Linked DNA regions of Homo sapiens: region 2 is linked to region 1. Evidence: fine-mapped expression QTL. Tissue or cell type: whole blood. Region 1 holds a variant in brackets; the other region holds the start of a gene. All regions are shown on one strand. Distances are from middle to middle.

What was found. PIP is the estimated chance that this variant, and not a neighbour inherited with it, causes the effect.
Region 2: it holds the start of PPARD, and the variant in region 1 is fine-mapped to the expression of PPARD in whole blood (TOPMed, PIP 0.95).

What each region holds. Positions count from the first base shown.
Region 1 is chr6:35,313,372-35,321,714 of GRCh38, reverse strand. It overlaps DEF6 (DEF6 guanine nucleotide exchange factor), which reads right to left. Exons shown (of 11, transcript NM_022047.4): 6 at 3,716-3,824; 7 at 3,244-3,542; 8 at 2,025-2,191; 9 at 1,698-1,896; 10 at 741-831; 11 at 1-528. The coding sequence ends at 305. Among named protein-coding and RNA genes, the nearest start is that of DEF6, 20 kb to the right of the region's middle. The variant G/A (reference allele first, on the strand shown) is at 4,243.
Region 2 is chr6:35,339,530-35,347,529 of GRCh38, reverse strand. It overlaps PPARD (peroxisome proliferator activated receptor delta), which reads right to left and starts at 4,972. Exons shown (of 8, transcript NM_006238.5): 1 at 4,849-4,972; 2 at 380-463. RefSeq lists silencers at 4,511-4,560, 4,591-4,730, 4,911-5,120.

The DNA of each region.
Region 1 (8,343 bases):
GGGGGCAGGTAGCCCCGGCTTGCTTGTTCTCTCTTTCCTAGCCCAAGAATCGGGTCCTTGGGTCTAAAGCACAGGGCCAAGTTCTCAAGGATCAACATCCCAGACAGCTCCCATGGTCTGGGGCTTGGAGCTGGTATGAAGGGTGAACCAGGTTCCATCCTGGACTGTTTATGGTTGGAGGGCCTGGGCCCCTGGCACCAGGACCTCAGCTCCCTCTCCTAGTAAGAGCTGGGATCACCCACAGGCCAGCTGTGGCCAGGTCCTGGTGGATATGACATTGGGAAGAACAAGGGGCTAAGAGAGGCTAATTTTCTGGTGCTGGATCCAGTTTATCTTCCTGAGGGGTGGAAGCCGGGGCAGGAGCCTCATCCCCACCATTGAGGGACTTCTGCTGCTCATTGCTGTTGGGCGAGGGGGTCCTGTTGCCCTGGGATCCCCAGCGGGTCAGGCGCTTTAGGGAGGAGTCACGGTGGGCAAGCAGAGGGGGCTGGAAGCCTGAGAAGGAGCTGCTGGTGACCGGACGCTTATCTGGCAGAGAGAAGGCAGGCAAGTAAGGAGAAAGGCATGCAAAGGTGAGAGGCGAGGGGCCTTGCCTCAGCCCTCAGAGGAGAGGGGAGCCTCCTGACTGCCAGTCCTGCTTTTGCTGGCCCTGGGAGATCTGGAGGTCTCCCAGGGAGACCTTTCTCCCTCCTTTCTCCCTCCCAGCTCCAGGGAAAGCTCCAGAGTCTATTCCTTCTCACCTCCAGGCTCAATTGGATGCATCAGCCGGTTCATCTGGACATTCCAGTGTTTCACGTTGGTGCTGGCCTGGCGCAGTTTTCTCTGGGCAGCCTGTGGGGACAGGGCCAGTGGGGAGTGATCAGAACCATCATCCATGGCATGGAGTCTTGATCTTTTCAGGTTCGCAGGCTGCTTAAAATCTGACCAAGACTACTGATCATCTCCCCAGAGAAAAACCATATATGCTCATAGAGTTATTAATACATACATGAATAGAGTTTGCCTCCAATTTCATGGGACTCATGGACTTCCAAAAGATAAAATGTAACCATAATAATAGTTTCCGTTTATTGAGCAGCTAAGATGTGCTAAGCATATTTATTATCTTATTTAACTTCCAGAGCAGAAGTTAACAACAAAAAAGTTCAAAAGAGGTTAAGTGACTTGCCCAGGGATACACTTGAGCTCTAAGCCACTGCACTACACCACCTTTCCAGCACCTAATCCAAGAACCTCTGTTCAACATTTCACGGAGCCATTAGCAGTGGTTGTGAGGTGGGGGGGATCATGGAGGAATTTTCCCTTTCTATGTTCCATATTTCTGTGTTTGAATTTATGGAGATTAAAGCTCCAAGGAGTAGAGCCAAAGTACAAGGATAGCAAGACAGGGGCTTGGAAGGGTAGAAGGAAAAATTTTTCCCCAGATTAATAATGATGTGAACAAAGATAGCAGCAAATGTTTCTTCAGCACTTACTACGTACTAAGTATCATGTATCATCTCATTTAATCTTCATAACAACGCTATTACCAGTTTCCCAGGTGAGAGACTAACTCCAAGAAGTTTGGGCATTTGTCCAAAGTCACACAGCCAGCAGCTGCTAGGGCCAGGGTTTGAGGGAAGGCAGCCTGGCTCCAGAGCCTGTGCCCTAATGAGCTCACCCTGCCAGCCTCCACCCCATCCCACCCCAGGCCTCACCTCCACATCCTCGTCAGCCCTCTGCCGGTTCTGCCGCACCTCCTCCAGCTGCTGCTGGGCCTGCTGCAGGGAGCGGCTCTGCTGTGCCATCTCCTGCTGCAGCTCTTCCTTCTCCTGCTGCGCCCGTTCGATGTAGCGCTCCTGCTCCTCCTTCAGCTGCATCAACTGCTTCAGCTTCTCTTCCTCCTCTTCCAGCAGTCTGCCGGGTGAGTGTGTACTGTGTAGCCTCTAGTGCCAAGGCACCTTGCAGGTGCACAGCAAGCAGGAAAACTGGGGTGTGTTCCAGGAGGGGTGGTGAGAGAACCAGAAGAGGTTCCTCAGGCCTACCTGGTCTGAGCGATTCGCACAGATTCTTCATCTCGCCGAGCTTTCACCTCTAGTTGCAGGGCCTCCTGCAACCGCTGCTGCATCTCCTCCAGCTCCTTGATGCGCTGCCGCTGCCGGGCAGCCTCCTCCTCCTTCAGCTCCATCTCAGCCTGCATGGAGGCCCGGGCCTGTGGAGGGGGGAGGTGGTGGACCAAGAGCCAGGTCAAAAGGGGCACGTGGGGGCGGAGGAGGAGGGGGTGGGCATGTTGCTAAGCTGCCTAGGGGTGAGGGTCTGGGGAACTCCTTCATGTTGGGGTTTCCTGATCTGACCCCTTTCTGAGAGCCTGACTGGAACAGATAATGGTCGGTGAACAGATGCCACGTGGGGGAAACGGGCTCAAGTTATTTCCTTCCTAGTACCAACCTTAATCATAATTATATAACATGTAATTAAACAACATTATATAATTAAATAAGATATAAAAATATGGTCATCTCCTTCCTAGCACTAACTTAATAATTATTATAATATATAATAATATGTTATAATCATGGCTGATGCTAGGAAGGATGTGACTATAACTACAATTATTACAACAAAAAGTTACTGGACACTACAAGTGTTTCCTCATTTAATCCTCACCGTACCTCTGTGAGCAAAGTTCTATTAGCATTAGCATTTTACTGATAAGGCTCAGTAAAATGAACTTGCCTGGGATCACGGGGCTCGTAAGAAGCAGAGCTAGGATTGAATCTACGTGTTTCTGACTCCAGATCCAGGTTTCTTAAATCCTAAATCTAATTGCCTCTGCACACCTAGTCCGCCTCCATACGCGTCCCGCTTGCCTCTCAAACTGGTTTCACTGTAAACTTAGTTCAAGTCTAGTCCAAACTTGGTCCAGTCTAATCCCCAATCACACGGTCTTCAACGGCTCCTTCTGCCCAAGCCCCAACCCACAGCCAAGGTCTCCGAACCAGGCCCCATCCATCCACGGGCTCGGACCTCGCCCCACACCCCTTTCCTAGCCCCAGGTTCTGTCCCTGGCGGAAGCCCCATCCCAAATCTCTTTTTCAAACCCGCGGACTCTGTCCCAACAATCCCTCATTTCAAGCTCCACCCCAGTGCACGCCCCTCAACCCAGGAGCTCCGCCCTCTGCCCAGGCCCCGCCCCCGGCGCTCCGCCCCTGGCCAGCCTCCCAGCCCACCGGTCCCGTCCCCGGCGCCGGGAGCTAACCCCACCTGCTCCGCCTCGCGCAGTTGGCCCTCGAGCGCCTGCTGCAGCTCGCGGTGCTGGCTGCGGCGCCGTTCCTCCTCCTCCTGCAGCAGCCGCTCGGCCTGCCGCTGCGCCTCCTGCAGCAGCTCCAGCTCCTGCAGCTTCCGCTCCTTCTCCTCCTGCAGCTGCTGCAGCCGCAGCAGCTCCTCTTCCTTGGCCGCCCGGCGCCGCTCCCGCTGCTCCCGCTGCTCGCGCCGTTTCTGCTTCAGGTCCTTGTGTAGGGACGTCTTCCCCTCGGCCTGCAGCCGGATCGCCATCTGGATGGCTGCCGAAGAGCGGGAGCGGGTCAGTAGGATCCTCGCACACGGCCCGAAAGGGGCCTTAGGAGTTTCCCGAGTCCACTCTCCAACCTCCCGCTGGACAAAGTATTATCACCCCCTTTTCACAGATGAGGCGCCTAAGGACCACCCAGACCCAAGCCACCTAGCGAGCACTCACCAGCTGTCCACTCCTGGCGCTGGCGCGTGTCTGAGGCGCTCATCTCATACGTGCGGTTGGCTGTCTTCACACAGAACATGCAGCGCTTTCCGTCGCGGTCTGGCAGCACCTGGCACAGGGTAGGTGGCCGCAGCCAGGCTGGCCTCACTGGGTCAGGGCCCCACCTGCCCCAAGGGTGCTCCAGCTCAAGCCCCTAGCCCTCCTGGCTATCTTCCCTGGGGACCCCACTCTGCCAGGAGCCTGCATGGCTTGCATCATAAGTTATGGGGGACTTAAGTCCCCACAACTCTGTAGCCTTTGCTCTTTGAAGGCTAGGTGGGTGCGTTTCCATCTTGCTATTATTCCACGGGGCCCAGTACATAATCGCCACTCAGTGTTTATGCAGATCACGCTTGAACACTGCCAGTAACAGGGTCCTCACTATCCATGACAACTCACTTCCACATAGCCCTGCTTGTTAAGAGTTCATTCATTCATTCCGCAGATGTTTTTGGAGTGCCTACTGAGTGCCACTCACTGCTCCAGGG[G/A]TTGGGATACTAAGGTGTGCCTAACAGACCAAATCTCTGCCTCCATTAAGTTTACATTCTGTGGAAAATAATAGCTACCACATTCTAGAGTCTGTACTAGTATTTTATATGCATCATTATCTTCACTCCACCTATACAGCTTTGCCAGGCAGGCATTATTAGCTCCACTTTACAGAGAAAGAAACTGAGGCACTAAGAGCTCCAGGATTGTCCACCTCACACTGTTAGTCTGTTAGTGATGAGGCTTGGACTTCTGCGTAGATCCGTGCTCCTTTCCACAGTAACACCTTATGTGACAAAATTAGACAGATCCTAGGATGGCTATGATAATTTTTTAAAAGGAAAAACAACTGTTGGTAAGGAAATGGAGAAACTGAGATCCTCACACACTGTTAGGGATATTATCCAGCCTTAAAAAGGAATGAAATTCTGATATATTTGACAACATAGATGAAGCCTGAAAACATTTCTAAGTAAAAGAAACCAGACACAAAGGGACAAATATTTTATGATTCTATTTATGTAAGATACCTAGAAAAGGCAAATTCATGGAGACAGAAAGCAGAATAGAGGATACTAGGAGCTGGGGTCAGGGAGTATGAGGAGTTATTGCTTGGTAGGTACAGAGTTTCTGTTTGGTGTGATGAAAAAGTTTTGGAAATAGATAGTGGTGATGGTTGTACAATATTGTGAGTATAGATCTTTCACCATGATCAGATGGGATTCATCCCAGGGATGCAAGGATGGTTCAACATGCACAAATCAATATGCATGACACATCATAGTAACAGAACCAAGAGCAAAAACCATATATGATCATTTCAATAGACCCTGAAAAAGCTTTCTAAAAAAATTCAACATCGTGTTATAAAAGCCCTAAAATATTGGGTATAGAGGCAACATACCTTAAAATAATAAACGCTATCTATGACAAACTCACAGCTAACATTGTAATAAATGGAGAAAAATTGAAAGCCTTTCCTCTAAGATCTGGAACAAGACAAGGATGCCCACTTTTACCACTTTTATTCCATGTAGTATTGGGAGTTCTGGCCAGAGCAATTAGGCAAGAGAAGGAAATGAAGGGCATCCAAACTGGAAATGAAGAAGTCAGATTAGCCTTGTTTGCAGATGGCATGGTCTTCTACTTAGAAAAATCTAAAGACTCCATGGGGCGTGGTGGCTTACACTTGTAATCCTAACACTTTGGGAAGCTGAGGTGGTTGGATTGCTTGAGGCCAGGAGTTCGACACCAGCCTGGGCAATACAGTGAGATCCTGTCTCTCTCTTAAAAAAAAAAAAAAGGCCGGGCACAGTGGCTTATACCTGTAATCCCAGCACTTTGGGAGGCCGAGGTGGGCAGATCATCTGAGGTCAGGAGTTTGAGACCAGCCTGGCCAACACGGTGAAATGCTGTCTCTACTAAAAATACAAAAAAAAAAAAAATTAGCCAGGTGTGGTGGCAGGTGCCTGTAATCCCAGCTAACTTGGGAGGCTGAGGCAGGAGAATCACTTGAACTCGGGAGGCGGAGGTTGCAGTGAGCTGAGATCGTGCCATTGCACTCCAGCCTGGGCGATAAAAGCAAGACTCCTCCTCCTCCTCAAAAAAAAAAAAAAAAAAAAAAGGGACTCCAACAAAAAACCGTTAGAGTTGATGAATGAATTCAGTAAAGTTGCAGGATAATTCAACATACAAAACCCAGTAGCATTTGTATACGCTAACAGCAAACAATCTGAAAAAGAAGTTGAGTGCAATCCCATTTCCAACAGCTACAAAGAATGTAAAATACCTAAGAATCGATGTAACCAAAGTGAAAGATCTATACAAGAAAAACTATAAAACTGATGAAATAAATTGAAGAGGATGCAAAAAAATGGAGAGATATCCCATGCTATGTATTGGAAAAATTAATATTGTTAAAATAACAATATTACCCAAAGCAATTTATAGATTTGGTGCAATCTCTGTCAAAATAGCAAAGGCATTCTTCATAGATATAGAAAAAAAATCCTAAAATTTATACGGAACTACAAAAGACCTCAAATAGCCAAAGTAAGCCTGAGTAAAAAGAACGAAGCTGGAGGCATCACATTTCCTGACTTCAAAATACACTACGAACTGGCCACGGTGGTACACACCTATAGCCCCAGCTATTCAGGAGGCTGAAGCAGGAGGATCCCATGAGCCCAAGGAGACTGAGGCTGCAGTGACCTATGATCATACCACTGCACTCCAGCCTGGACACCAGAGAAAAATCCTGTCTCTAAAATAAAACAAAAAAACAAAATGTAGTACAAAGCTATAGTAACCAAATCAGCATAGTACTGGCATAAAAAGAGACACAAAGACCAATGGAACAGAATAGATAACCTAGATATAAATCCATGCATTTACAGAGAACTCATTTTTGACAAAGGCTCCAGGAACACACAATGGGGAAAGAACAGTCCTTTCAATAAATGGTTCTGGGAAAACTAAATAACCACATGCAGATGAATGAAACTAGACCCCTATCTCTCACCATATAAAAAAATCAAATAAAAATGGATTAAACATTTAAATGTAAGACCTGAAACTATGAAACTACTAGAAGAAAACATTGGAGAAATATTCCAGGACATTGGTCTGGGCAAAGAGATTTTTTGTGGAAGACCTCAAAAGCATAGGCAACCAAACCAAAAATAGAAAAATGGGATTATGTCAAGCTAAAAAGCTTCAGGACAGCCATGGAAACAATCAACAAAGTGAAGAGACAACCCACAGAATAGGAGAAAATATTTGCAAAGTATCAATCTGACGAGGGATTAATAACCAGAATATATAAGGAGCTCAAACAACTCTGTAACAAAAAACCAAATAATCCAGTTTAAAAATGGGCAAAAGATCTGAATAGATATTTCTCAAAAGAAGACATACAAATGGTCAACAGAGATATGAAAAAATGCTCAATGTCACTAATCATCAGAGAAAAGCAAATCAAAATTAAATGAGATATCATTTCATCCCAGTTAAAATGGCTTTTTACAAAAAAAATAGAGAACATCTTTTTTTTTTTTTTTTTTTTGAGATAGAGTTTCACTCCTGTCACCCAGGCTGAAGTGCAATGGTGCAATCTTGACTCACTGCAACCTCCATCTCCAGGTTCAAGCGATTCTCCTGCCTCAGCCTCCTGAGTAGCTGGGATTACAGGCGCCCACCACCATGCCCGGCTGATTTTTGTATTTTTAGTAGAGATGGGGTCTCACCATGTTGGCCAGGCTGGTCTCAAACTCCCAACCTCAGGTGATCCACCAGCCTCGGCCTCCCAAAGTGCTGGGATTACAGGCATGAGCCACTGCGCCTGGCCAAGAATATCTTTTCTGTAAAAAGATGCTGGAGAAGACGTGGAGAAAGGGGAACCCTGATAAACTGTTAGTGGGAATATAAATTAGTACAGCTACTATGGAAAACTGTATGAAGGTTCCTCAAAAAACTAAAAATAGAACTATCATATGATCTAGAAGTTCCACTGCTGGGTATATATCTAAAAGAAAGTAAACCAATATATTGAAGAGATATCTGCCTTCCCATGTTTACTGCAGAGATATTCATAATGGCCAAAATATGAAATCAACCTAAGTGCCCAGAAGTGGATAAATAGATTAAGAAAATGTGATATATATAATATTATTCAGCCATAAAAAGAATGAAATCTTGTCATTTGCAACAACATAGATGGCACCATAGGTCATTTTGTTAAGTGAATAAGCCAAACACAGAAAAACAACTATCGCATGTTCTCACTTACATGTGGGAGCTAAAAAAGTGGATCACATGAAGATAGAGAGTATATTAGTGGTACCAGAGGCCAGGAAGTGTGGGGGGAGGACAAAGAGAGGTTGATGAATGGGTATAAACATACAGTTTGACAGGAAAAATAAGACCTAGGATTCAATAGATCAGTAGGGTGGCTACAGTTTACAATAATCTATTGTATATTTCAAAATAGAAGAGAATAATTTGAATGTTTCTAGCATAAAGAAATATTTGAGGTAAAGGATACCTAATGACATGATTTGATTTTTATAAAATATATGAATGTATTAAATTATCACATGTAC
Region 2 (8,000 bases), 26 kb before region 1:
GTACCCATATAGGCAAAGACGAAAGTTCGTTCATTTACTCATTCAACAAAAATTTATTCATTATCTCCTCTGTGCCAGGCACTATCCTAGACACAACAGGCAGCAAAACAACTCCCTGCCCTGTGGAGTTTATCTTTTAATGGGCGCAAAGGTGGGAATCTCCATGCTCCTGAAAAAACTATGTAAGCCATAGACTTTCAATAATTACTTAATAAATGCCTATACTATGCATAAGCAACTGGTACCAGATGCTGTGACAGGAACCTGGAATCTGGGAATAAGCCCTAGTGAAATTATTTCATCTTCAAGGTCAGGATCTTAAATCTGGATCCTGTGTCAGTGGTGGTCAGAGACCCCTGAGTAAAGAAAATGGGATTACCTCGTTGGTGCATCTGTCTTCATCTGTTGGTGAGCAGAAGCCACTGTGTGAGTATCACGTGCATGCCCAAAACACTGTACAACACTGCAGGATAGAAAAAACCCCAACAGCTTTAGCTGACAGGTGCCAGGGGCCCTCAAAGCAACTCTAATAAGTTATACCCACCGTAACTCAAAGAGTGTTCCTAAGGTAATCTGGCTCCTCGTCGGTCCCTTACACACCACCCTGAGATGTGATTCTGAGCCTGAGTCAGCAAATATTTCCCCAATCCTGGAAGGAGTCTGCTCACTCCCAAGTAAGCAGACACTGGCTTTGCTGATTTTATCAGGTCGGCGCAGAAGGCGCAGGCAAGGTAAGAAGGGAGCTGGGTAGAAGCTCATAAATGAAGATGTCCTGAGTCATAGTTGATGCCTTCACCAAAGCCCCTGCAGAATGAACTGGAGTCACATGCCAATCACCAGCCTGCTGAGTTATGAAGGCTAGGAGCCATCTGCCAAGGAAGAAGACCCATATGTCTGAAACCTGATGCAAGGGGCCATGTTCTCCCTGCCAGGCTCAAGGCAAGCTCCAAGGGCTCCTCTGACACCCTGGAATCCAGCTGTTGCAAGCAGCTCCTCACCCTGGCTCCAACGGCAGAGAAAAATGTGCATGGACACCAAACCATCTCCAAGAAGCAGCCATTAGGTAATCTGGGACATGGCATTGACAATGGCACCGGGCACAGGGCTTCTGACATCATATAAGCAAGGGCCTGGCAGAACGGACAAAGCCCACAGAGACCTGGGTAGGGAGGAAGAGAATGTTTCCAGTGTGGGCAATGCTGAGCAGTAAAGCTGTGTCCTGCAATTTCCAAGCCCTTCAGAGGCACTGGAGCAAGGCACCACTGTTCAGCTTCCCAGCCTGCAGAGAGCACTCAGGGAGGTGGGCCTCAGGGACAGGATATAGCTGAAGCCCTTAGAAGTGACAGGTCCAGGCTGGTTGTGGTGGCTCACGCCTGTAATCCCAGCACTTTGGGAGGCTGAGGCGGGCAGATCACGAGGTCAGGAAATCGAGACCATCTCGACTAACACGGTGAAACCCTGTCTCTACTAAAACTACAAAAAAAAATGAGCCAGGCGTGGTGGCGGGCGCCTGTAGTCCCAGCTACTCAGGAGGCTGAGGCAGAAGAATGGCGTGAACCTGGGAGATGGAGCTTGCAGTGAGCCAAGATCGCACCACTGCACTCCAGCCTGGGCGACAGAGCGAGACTCCATCTCAAAAAAAAAAAAAAAAAAAACGAAAAAAAAGTGACAGGTCCAACTCCTGAGAGAGAGGAGCTGCACTATCCCAGGATGTGCCAGAATCTGCAGGCCCTGAAGACAGCTTGCACAACAGTCAGGACAGCTGTAGGCCCAAAGCAGAGGCCTAATGGCTTCCCAGGCTAGTGCTCTACACTGTCTATCCTCTTACCAGGCCCTAAGGGAAGGCGTCTAAGGGACCACAGGTCGGGTTGAAAGGCTGAGTAGGAGCAATTCTTCCTGAATGGGTTAAGGCATATATCACACAAGAAGGCCATGGTGAAGAGGCAAGGAGAAAGGCACCTGAACGAGCAGTCAGTGTAATCTCAGTGCTCTGAGAGGCCAAGGTGAGGAGGACTGCTTGAGGCCAGGAGTTCGAGACATTGTGAGAGCCTGTCTTTACAAAAAAATTGTTTTTTAATTAGCTGAGTGTGGTGGTGTGCACCTGTAGTCCCCGCTACTCTGGAGGCTGAAGCAGGAAGATCCCTTGAGCCCAGGAGTTCGAGGTTACAGTGCACTATGATAGCACCACTGCACTCCAGCCTGGGCAATAGAACAAAACCTTGTGTCAGAAAAGAAAGAAGGAAAGAAAATCCAGACCCAGACTCTGCAAAAATCACTGAATGGGGAAGGAATTTGGTAATTGACAATCATGACTACCTTCTCAGAAAATGAGAGTGGACAAACTGCAAGAAGCTATCCATCTAGGGCTGCTGGTGCCCAAGCTGCTCCACAAGGACTGGCCTTGACCTGTTCTCAAATCTCTCACCTGCCACCACAGCAGAGAGCACTACTAAGGGGTAAGCACGGCCAGAAGTAACAAACTGCTCAAAAGAGTAAGGAGGAGTCCTTGAAAGCCAGAGACTAGACTAAAAATCTGTCCAACACTTGACCTCTACCTCTTTAGAATGATCCACTAAAACCCTGGAGAGATGCTATTCACAGGAACAAGGAAAACCCTCTGGTCCAGTCTACCCAAATCTTTGCAAGTGCTGCAAAGGGGGTCTGGGGGTCAGTGGAGAAGGGACTGGCTCAACAACAGGCCATCCACAATCCTATTGCTTTCACAGAAAACAGTGTACAAGAGGATTACAAAACTTTAAAGTCTGGTCAAGCTGGTTCCTTTGGCTCTCCACCGCAGCTCCTAAAGGTTGCCAACTCCCATGTCCAATCTGGCTCAAAGACAGCACAATCATCAAAAGAGGAGCCCCTAGAAACCTGGGGCCAGGTGAAACAATGAGCCTTCATTTCTAAACATGAGAGTGGGTCACGCTTTCAGAATCCTCCAAGATCAGACTGGGTAGAAACAAAGGATATGTTATTTCTTGAATACTTCTTTAGAGAACCAACGCCAAATAAAGGAGCTCAAACTGAAGGATATGACGAGAATCTTCTGCTTGGTAAGGTTAAACATCCAGACACACATGGAAGGTGGTGGGCTCTCAAGCCCCAGAGAAGATGATCTATGTGACTGGAAGCAGATGTGTCTGCTCAAGTTCCTGACAAGGTCTAACTACTGCAGCCCCACAGCCCACCAGGGTAGTTATCAATCTGATACCTCATACTATGCCTGGGCAAAGGGAACAGAGCTCTGGGATTGCCGTTCCTCCTGGATACAGAGGAAATTAAGCTCCCAGGGAAAAAGAGGGACAATTTGGATTCCCTAGATTCAGAAAAGAACAAAGAAAAAAGAGGGAGAAGAGACTCCAAGAGAACATGTTCAGTGACCAACATCAGAGGCACATTCAGTTGGCCAAAGATTGTCAAAGAGATATGAGAGAAAATCAGCAGCTGTTTCAAGCCACCAATAATAAAAGGGGACAGATGCCCGCCAGCCCCAGGGCTATCAGGCCAGCAATCTATTTCAAAACTCAAACGGGAAAAAAAAAAGTTCTGGAGCCAGTACACAGAAAAAAGGTTGAGGACCACAAGTATTTTCTGGAGCACAGCTTCTGGAGAATTCTCTTAGTCCTTTCGGATGGAGCACAGGGTGGAGGGTGGGAGTGAGGGCAGAGAGAGGCTGGGGTATCATGGTATAAGTGTATTCCACACATCCAGAGTGGAAAGACACAAAACCCCGGTTCCTGGAAGGGGAAAAGAATTGGACAAAGCCTCCGGCTACCCGTGGCACACATCCAGCTCAGCGCCGTCTCCCCCAAGGGTTCCTGGAAGTCAACAGCCCCATAAAGGGGAAGTATTAAAGCTGAGATAAGAAGAATGGCCTACAAATTGGACATCATCTCTGATGCAACACCCACGTACATTCTCCCACACAATCTGTTATTTCCTTTAGTCAATCAGCCTCTTAATTCGATCAAGGTCTGAACACCTCCACCCCCACCCCATGGTTATGTCAACTGCAGGTCAAGTGAAAGTAGAGTAGAGTGTGGAGCTAAGGCTTCTCCCTGAAGCAGGGGAAAGGAACAGGGAGAGAAAAGGAGGTGGGCGACAGGAATGTAGGGGACAGAATTGATACGAAGGAAATCGGAAAAAGGAGCAAAAACAGGGCCTCTCAGGGAACCAAGGTGAGAGTCTTAGGGAGACAGGGACTGCAGGCACGGAGTTGGAAAAAGCCTAGGAACACCCTGGGGAAGAGGATGGGGACCCATAATACTAGGAGGGATCAGACCACAGATAAGAAGGGGACAGGGATGGGGAGAGAGAGTAAAGCCTGAGAGAGCAAGGATGGGAGGATGAAGGCAGGAGACAAGGATAACGAGGGGGACAGAGGAAAAGATCCCAGAGAAGACTCTCGCTAGATAGGGCAGTGGATTCAGGAACACCAGAAACGGGTGAAGGAAGAGGTCAGAGGCAGGGGAGGGGAATGGGAGAGGCCCCCGGGCCTGAGACGGGGTTCTCACAAGTGGGAGAAGACGAAGCCACCAGGCCCAAGAGGGGGCAAAGAGTAGGGTGGAAGGAGGCCCGTATTTCGGACTCACTCAAGCAGCTATGGGGGTCCAAGGGCGGGGGGGCGCAGGGTCAGCGGGGCGCCTACATGGCAACGCACGACGGCTGACCGGAGCGGGCCGGAGCATCAGGAAGCCGCCGTGACGCTGTCCGCGGACCCCGGCAGCTCCCCGCACCCCGTTCCCCGCCGCCGGGCCTTGCGCCCCAGTCCCGCTGGCCGCCTCGGCCCAGGCCCGGCGCTTCCCTCCGCCACTTGCCTGACCGCTTCTCTCGTCTCGGACTGACCTGTCCCGGCTGCCTACGGCGCCACCGCCGCCGTCCCGCAGGCTCCGCAGAATTCTCCCGCTCCTGCCAAAACTTTTCCCATTAATCCCCAGGTCCGCGGCGGCCGCAGCGTCACACGCTCCGCGGCCCGGCCCCGCCCCCGCCAGCGAGACGTCACCGCGCTGCTCGGCCTTTCCCTCCCCACGCCCCCTTCCGCCCGGCGGCGGCCAATCACCACGCCTCCTGGAGACTCCCCTAATTCTGCCTCTCCGCCCACCGCACGCTGCCCCGGGCCAGCCTGTGGCGCCCTCTGGTGCGGGATGCGGACGTAGCAGCTAAGGGAGGAGCAGGGGAGCGCCAGGTCCAGTAGAACAAGTCCAGCAAGTGACACAAGAGGGAATTTAAAGCTGGAAGGGAATTTCTAGGTCATCTAGTGCAACCTCCTCATCTTCCAGTGAAGAAACTTAGTCCTAGAAAAGGTACGTGACTTGCAGTGACAAGTCTGGAGAGACTCTTAACCCAGTGCTAGGTCCACTGGAGGAGATCATATCGCCTATAATTTTCAAAAAAGGGCTTTCCGCCTTCAAGAGGCTTCTACAACTGGAAATTTACGGTCTTAGAGTTCTTAACCTTTCTTCCCATGTGCTTATGCAATACGCTTATTCACCTAAAATAGGGGACATCCTCCTTATTGTTGTAGAAAATTCTGTTCTTATTAATCCACATCTTTAAGACCTGGAAGGGACCTATTATCCCAACCTACCGCTTAAGATGTACCACAGGAAACTACCTAGCAGCTGGGAGGCAATCTGGTGGAAGAAGTTGGCTTTCATCTGACGATGAACAAAGCTTGACTCTCAGGTATATGACCAATGCCTCCCCTCCATCATCATTAAAGATGACCCCTCCCCTCTCCTTCGGCCACACCTTCCGTAGGCCGCAAGCTCCTTAGGCCACACCTAGCTATCTGGATGAGTGATTTTTTTTTTTTTTTTTTTTTTTGAGACACAGTTTCACTCTGTCGCCCCTGCTGGAGTGCAGTTGCGCAATCTCAGCCCGCTGCAACCTCCGCCTCCCGGGTTCAAGCGATTATCCTGCCTCAACCTCCCAAGTAGCTGGGATTACAGGCATGCGCCACACGCCCAGCTAATTATTGTAATTTTAGTAGAGACAGGGTTTTGCCATGTTGCCCAGGCTGGTCTTGAACTCCTGGACTCAAGTTATCCTCCCACCTTAGCCTCCCAAAGTGCTGGAATTACAGGCGTGAGCCACCGTGCCTGGCAGGGATGAGTGATTTTTTCCCCCTTCTTTCTGCTTCTCTTTTTCTTTTTCTTTTTTTTCCCCTACTTTTTGAAATGCTTGTGCATTATATTTGTAACTTAGATGTCAACCTCCTTGCCCTTTGAGATTGAGGTAAAAATGGACGGTGAAAGTCAGAGTCCCTCCCTTAACATATTTGCAAATATCTGGGGATTTATATTCTCCTAAATATCTCTGCCTCTGGGTTTCTGCTTTTGCCAGGCTGTTGCGTACCACAGTTCAGAAGTCTGGAGAGGAAACTCAGCTCTCCCTAAGGACTGCCCGCACCCTTCCCACACAAAACATTGACGAGTACAAAGACATTAGGGTACTCTGGGCCCTGGGGGAGGTCATATGATACATGGCAAACAGTTTAAACTCACCCCTCAGAAGTTTTTTTTTTTTTTTTTTCCCAAGGCAGAAGAATTTTTCTTAGTGCAGAACAAAATGAGAAGTCTCCCATGTCTACTTCTTTCTACACAGACACGGCAACCATCCGATTTCTCAATCTTTTCCCCACCTTTCCCGCCTTTCTATTCCACAAAGTCGCCATTGTCATCCTGGCCCGTTCTCAATGAGCTGTTGGGCACACCTCCCAGACGGGGTGGTGGCCGGGCAGAGGGGCTCCTCACTTCCCAGTAGGGGCGGCCGGGCAGAGGCGCCCCTCACCTCCCAGACGGGGCGGCTGGCCGGGTGGGGGGCTGACCCCCCTACCTCCCTCCCGGACGGGGCGGCTGGCCGGGCGGGGGGCTGACCCCCCACCTCCCTCCCGGACGGGGTGGCTGCCGGGCGGAGACGCTCCTCACTTCCCAGATGGGGTGGCTGCCGGGCGGAGAGGCTCCTCACTTCTCAGACGGGGCAGCTGCCGGGCGGAGGGGCTCCTCACTTCTCAGACGGGGTGGTTGCCAGGCAGAGGGTCTCCTCACTTCTCAGACGGGGCGGCCGGGCAGAGACGCTCTTCACCTCCCAGACGGGGTCGCTGCCGGGCAGAGGCGCTCCTCATATCCCAGATGGGGCGGCGGGGCAGAGGCGCTCCCCACATCTCAGACGATGGGCGGCCGGGCAGAGACGCTCCTCACTTCCTAGATGTGATGGCGGCCGGGAAGAGGCGCTCCTCACTTCCTAGATGGGATGGCGGCCGGGCGGAGACGCTCCTCACTTTCCAGACTGGGCAGCCAGGCAGAGGGGCTCCTCACATCCCAGACGATGGGCGGCCAGGCAGAGACACTCCTCACTTCCCATACGGGGTGGCGGCCAGGCAGAGGCTGCAATCTCGGCACTTTGGGAGGCCAAGGCAGGCGGCTGGGAGGTGTAGGTTGTAGTGAGCCGAGATCACGCCACTGCACTCCAGCCTGGGCACCATTGAGCACTGAGTGAACGAGACTCCGTCTGCAATCCCGGCACCTCGGGAGGCCGAGGCTGGCGGATCACTCGCGGTTAGGGGCTGGAGACCGGCCCGGCCAACACAGCGAAACCCCGTCTCCACCAAAACCAGTCAGGCGTGGCGACGCGTGCCTGCAATCGCAGGCACTCGGCAGGCTGAGGCAGGAGAATCAGGCAGGGAGGTTGCAGTGAGCCGAGATGGCAGCAGTACAGTCCAGCTTCGGCTCCGCATGAGAGGGAGACCGTGGAAAGAGAGGGAGACCGTGGGGAGAGGGAGCGGGGGAGGGGGAGGGGGCCCCTCAGAAGTTTTTAGAAGTCCTTTCCACACCCCCAGCTGAGGTTTTCTAACTGGCCCTGCACCCTCTAGCCTCCTCCAAAATCACTAACTCTCCCTCCTGCCCCACCATTCTCTCCTCTGTCCCACCCTCTCTGGAGAAAACACAAATTCCTCTGGCTTTCTACGGAGAAAGAGAAAGCGACATTTTAACCGT